Linked DNA regions of Homo sapiens: region 2 is linked to region 1. The links come from fine-mapping of genetic effects on gene expression. Tissue or cell type: whole blood. Region 1 holds a variant in brackets; the other region holds the start of a gene. All regions are shown on one strand. Distances are between the middles of the regions.

Region 1 (2,682 bases):
CAGGCTGGAGTGCAGTGGCATGATCTCGACTCACTGCAACCTCCACCTCCTGGGTTCAAGCAATTCCCCAGCCTCTGCCTCCCAAGTGGCTGGGACTACAGGTGCATGCCACCACTCCTGGCTAATTTTTGTATTTTGTTTTAGTAGAGACGGGGTTTCACTGTATTGGCCAGGTTGGTCTGGAACTTCTGATTTCAAGTGATCTGCCCACCCCAGTCCCCCAAAGTGCTGGGATTACAGGCGTGAGCCACCTCGCCTGGCCTGGGATGGTGTTTTGCTATGTTGGCCAGGCTGGGCTCAAATGAACCTCCTGCCTCAGCTTCCCAAAGTGCTGGGATTAGGGACATGAGCCCTAATGTCTGGCCTGTGACGGTTGATGTTGTATGTCAACTGGCCTAGGTTAGAGAGCTGGTAGACATTATTTCTGGGTGTGTCTGTGAGGCTGTCTCTAGAAGAGCTTGCATTTGAATTGCTGTACTGAGGAAAGAAGATCTGTCCTCATCAATGTGCAGGCATCATCCAATCACTGAGGGCTCAATAGAACAAAAAGGTGAGGAAAGGGCACATTCTCTGTCTTCTTGAGCTGGGACATCAATCTTATGCCCTTGACACTCACCTGAGGACACTGGAGGTCCTGGTTCTCAGGCCTTTGGACTCTGGGATGACACCATTTCCTGCCCTGGTTCTCAGGCCTTTGGCCTCAGACTGGGAGCTCTGCCACTGGCTGCCCTAGTTCTCATGCCCTTGGACTCTGATTGAGTAACACCCCTAGCTTTCCTGATTCTCCAGCTTACAGATGGCATATCATGGGAATTCTTGACCTCCATAATTGTGCAAGCCAATTCCCGTGATAAATCTCTTACATATTTACATATATCCTAATGGTTCTGTTTCCCTGGAGAATCCTGACTAATACAATTGCAACTGATCTTCTCAAAGAACCAACCTTGGTTTCACTGGGTGTCTTTATTGTTATCTACTTAATTGATTTCTGCTTTAATCTATTATTTCCTTTATTCTGCTTATTTTGAGTATAATCTCCTCTTTTCTAGTTTGTTAAGGTGGAAGCTGAGGACATTGGTTATAGATTTTTCTTCTTTTCTACTATAGGCATTCAGTGCTATAAATTTCTAAGTACTGCTTCAGGCTTTTTCTTCTTCTTTAAAAAGAATTTTTTTTTTTTTACATTTTTAGTAGAAATGGGGTTTTACCATGTTGGCCAGGCTGGTCTCGAACCCCTGGGTTCAAGTGATCCGCCTGCCTAGGCCTCCCAAAGTGCTGGGATTACAGGTGTGAGCCACCACTCCTGGCCCAACTTCAGTTTTATCCCATACATTTTATC[TC/C]ATAAATTTTGATATGTTGTCTTTATTTTCATTTGGTTCAAAATACTTTTTATTTTCCCTTCTAATTTCTTTGATTTATGGTTTATTTAGAAATGTGTTCTTCAGATTCCAAATATTTGGGAACTGTCCGGATATATTTCTGTTATTGTTTGTTTGTTTTGGGACAGGGTCTCACTCTTGTCACTGAGGCTAGAGTGCAGCAGTGTGATTTTGGCTCACTGAAATCTCAGCTTCCAGGGCTCAAGTGATTCTCCCACCTCAGCCTCCCGAGTAGTTAAGACTACAGGTGTGCACTACCATTCCCAGCTAATTTTAAAAACTCAGCCCTACCTCTACAAAAAATACAAAAATCAGCCAAGCACAGTGGTGCATACCTGTCGTCAAACTCCTGGGCTCAAGCAATCTGCCTGCCTTGGCCTCCCTAAGTGCCAGGATTACAGGTGTGAGCCACCATGCCCAGCTTCTGTTGCTGATTTCTAATTTAAGCCATTTTGGTCAGAAAACATACTTTGTATAATTTGCATCCTTTTACATTTATTGAGACATGTCTTATTGCCCAGAATGTGCTACCAAATAGGAATATAATATGAAAATCAGATAATGACATTACAAGAAAACTACAAACCAATATCCACCATGGTACAGATACAAAAATCCTTAAAACAGTTGCAGCAAATTGGATCTAACAGTATAGAAAAACATACATCATGACTAAGTGGAGTTTACCCTAGGAATTCAATGTTGGTTTAATTTTTTTTTTTTTTTTTTTGAGACAGAGTCTTGCTCTGTCGCTCAGGCTGGAGTGCAGTGGCGAGATCTCAGCTCACTGCAAGCTCCGCTTCCTGGATTCACGCCATTCTCCTGCCTCAGCCTCCCGAGTAGCTGGGAATACAGGCGGCCACCACCATGCCCGGCTAATTTTTTGTATTTTTAGTAGAGACAGTTTCACCGTGTTAGCCAGGATGGTCTTGATCTCCTGACCTCGTGATCTGCCCGCCTCAGCCTCCCAAAGTGCTGGGATTACAGGCATGAGCCACTGTGCCCAGCCAAATGTTGGTTTAATTTTTAAAAATTAATCAGTGTAATTCAATATATTGTAACTCAAAGAAAATGACCAAGGTGAGTCTCAATCATTTTAAGAGGTTTATTTGTCAAGGTTAAGGACACACCTTGGAAAAAGAATACAGAAACACAGGAAAAATCTGTGGTCTGTGCGCTTTTCTGAAGACAGTCTGGGGATCTCAATATTTGAAGGGGAAAGAGTGGACATTGGGGGAGAGAGGAAGAAAGAAAAAAGGGAGGATAGATAAAAGAGGCAAGCAGTTGTTTTCTTTTGAGT
Region 2 (2,682 bases), 36 kb before region 1:
CTCTACTACTAGCCAGCCACTATACAAGGCATTGTGAATATAAAAATAAATGGCTTTCCATCCCTCTCCCGACCCCAACTAGCCTGGAAGCTCACTGGGGACAAGGACAATCGTATTCATCTTTGTATTCCCAGCACAATGCCTTGCATGCAACAGGAACTCAATAAATTCCTGTTGGAAAAAAACAAAAGAAGCATTCACCGTACTATTCACTCCCTTACACCCCTCAGCACTTAATGTACCAAATGTAAACTGAGTACACGTTGCTTTGCAAATGTCCCATCAGTGCCTGTGATGCAGTATAGCCTACCTCCTTCATTTGACTGGAAGCTCCCTGAAGGCAGGGGCTGTGGCCTGTCTCCTTTCCTTCCTCTAGATCTCCCCCTGGTGCTTAATACAGAGCTTGGATCACTGGGGTTGGTCAATATGTTGACTAAGGCAGCATTCAAGAGTGAAACTGCAAACAGGCTTCCCAGTTATCTTGGAGGAGGACTCTAGAGCTTTTTACCTGAGCCATGCTGATTTCTCACTTAAGGCAACCCAAAAGTTCAGGAGTTCCTAGGTCCACCTTTCCTTGAGACACTGTCGTTTTGAAGAACTGTCACCAAATCACGGTAGCGACTCCTTCGTGTCCCATCAGTCCTGTTGCCATATTGAACTTTGTCTTCAAATAGAACTTAGTGTCCTCCGAAGAAAAGATAGGTGTTCCAAGAATCCCTGGACTCTGCCTGGCTCCTGCCTATTGTCTGAAGAAAAAGAGAGTCTACCAGTCTTGGTTTTCCAGTTGAATTCTCTTGATGAAGCTCACGATCTGTTTCAGAAACCTGAAACCAGAAAGGAAGAGGGGGGCTGCTAAATGCAACATCTTCAGGCCATTACAACGTGCGATATGAATTTTTTTTTTGCTGGGCGCTCTCTGTGAAGCTCAGAACGAGGACATGAGTCAAGAAGAGTTTTCTTTCTAGGTCAATAGGAGGAACTGGTCTCCTGGGCAAGGAGTGGAAGCCAACAGGAGCAAAAGTAATTGGGGCCTCCTATGGAGGAACTCTGCCAAAAGGAAAGTTGCTTGGATTTGCCATCTCAGGAATGGAAGAAGGGGGCGGAGACCCTTTGGGGCTTTTGTGCCCAGTGGGCCGGCCCGAAAAGCTCGCACTTTACAGAGGCGGCAAGACTAGGGTGGAGGAAAGCTCAAGGGCCATCGCTGGGTGCTTCGGTGGCGGGCAGAAACGGGACTGGCAGTGCCCACACGTGTGCGTTCTCCCCGTCCGCCCGAAGGTAGGGAAACTTGCTGCGGAGGTGGAGGACAGGCAGGCGAAGCCCGGCGCGGCGTGTCGCCCGCCTCGCTCCGGCCAGCCAGCCTCTGCACCCGCTGCACCAACCGGGAGCAGAGCCGGAGAGTGCCGAGAAGCGCGCGAGATGCGTGCTCGCGCCCGCGTCCCCTCCGAGAGCCCTCTCCCGGGCCGGGGACGCGGCGGGACGCGCGGGCAGGGGGCGGTGTGCGCGCACGGCCTTTCCCCTCCCTCCCCCGGAGATCCCCCTCCCTTCGCCACGCGCCCCTCCTCCCCTCCCCTCCCCCTTCCCGCGCGGCACCCCACGGCTTGCGAGCTACTGAAGCGCTGCCGTCTGTACGGACGACGCTGCGGTCTTTGGGGCTTGCTCCTACCTGCCAGGCGCGGCCTCCCGCTGGCTCCCTGGCCGCGCGGCGCCTCCTCCAGGCCCCAGCACACCCTGCCAACCCCACCGCCGCGGCTGCCCCCACCGGGACCGAGGCAAGTTTACAAACACCAACCCCGGCCCGTTTCCCCGGAAGCACTTCCCCCTCCCCCTCGTCCTCTCCGCCGAGCGGCTGCATCCACTTCCGGGCTCGGCAGCTAGACTAGCGGGGGCAGCCTCAGAGCGGGTGAGCTTGGGGACGCACGGAGAGGTGCAGCTGGGTGAGTGGGCGGCGCCGTGCGCCGAGGGCATGGAGGAGGGAGCGCTGAGGCCGGCGCGTGCGCCGTGGCCGGGGCGCGCCCCGGCCGCCATCGAGACTGAGGGCAGGACCCTCGGCCCTTCGATGATTGTACGCTGGGTGCTCGATGGGAGGAGGGTTTGCTGGGTGAGCTGGTTCAGACTCCTTGAAAAATCATCGTCACTCTTTCTTCCTCGCGGACGTCCTGCCCATCGCTCTGAGCCGGCGCCCCAAGTAGAGCCAGAGTAGTTCGTACCCAGCCTTTTCACGTAACTCGGCCGAGGTGGTTCTTCTCCGAATTTTTTCCGTCAGGCCCAGATTAGCAGATTTTGGGGTCAGCTGGGAGAGGCGTTAACTTTTCTTCGCACACTCTTGCTTTGTGCGCTCAACCACAGTCTGAATTCTCGCAGAGGCGTTCCTTGAGTAGCCCTTGGCCACACTGCTCACCTCCCTGCAGAAGTCAAAGCCCCAGCCCTCCTCTGCGAATCCCGAGGCCAGCCTGGTTGGTTACCTTCTCCCCTTCGCCCTTTACTCCAGGCCGTCCAGCATCAAACACTAGCCTCCACACGTGGAAAAGACCCTGACTCCCACAGTAGACTAGTCTTATGGGAGTCCTGGCTCTTGGGCCAGGCTGCATTAGGAAAATGGAAACCAGACTGTCTTCAAATTCTTCTGCCTAGCCTTAGCCATTAGAGAGAGGTCCTGCTAAAGATGGACTGCAAATGCGCTTG

The links. PIP is the estimated chance that this variant, and not a neighbour inherited with it, causes the effect.
Region 2: CSAD starts here. The variant in region 1 is fine-mapped to the expression of CSAD in whole blood (TOPMed, PIP above 0.99).

Annotation. Positions count from the first base shown.
Region 1 is chr12:53,143,636-53,146,317 of GRCh38, reverse strand. No RefSeq gene overlaps it. Among named protein-coding and RNA genes, the nearest start is that of ZNF740, 36 kb to the left of the region's middle. The variant TC/C (reference allele first, on the strand shown) is at 1,343.
Region 2 is chr12:53,179,819-53,182,500 of GRCh38, reverse strand. CSAD (cysteine sulfinic acid decarboxylase) reads left to right here and starts at 1,576. Exons shown (of 17, transcript NM_001244705.2): 1 at 1,576-1,769. It overlaps ZNF740 (zinc finger protein 740), which reads right to left and starts at 1,779. Exons shown (of 7, transcript NM_001004304.4): 1 at 1,664-1,779; 2 at 509-824. The coding sequence starts at 517. RefSeq lists silencers at 762-1,056, 1,410-1,709, 2,000-2,089 and an enhancer at 1,752-2,310.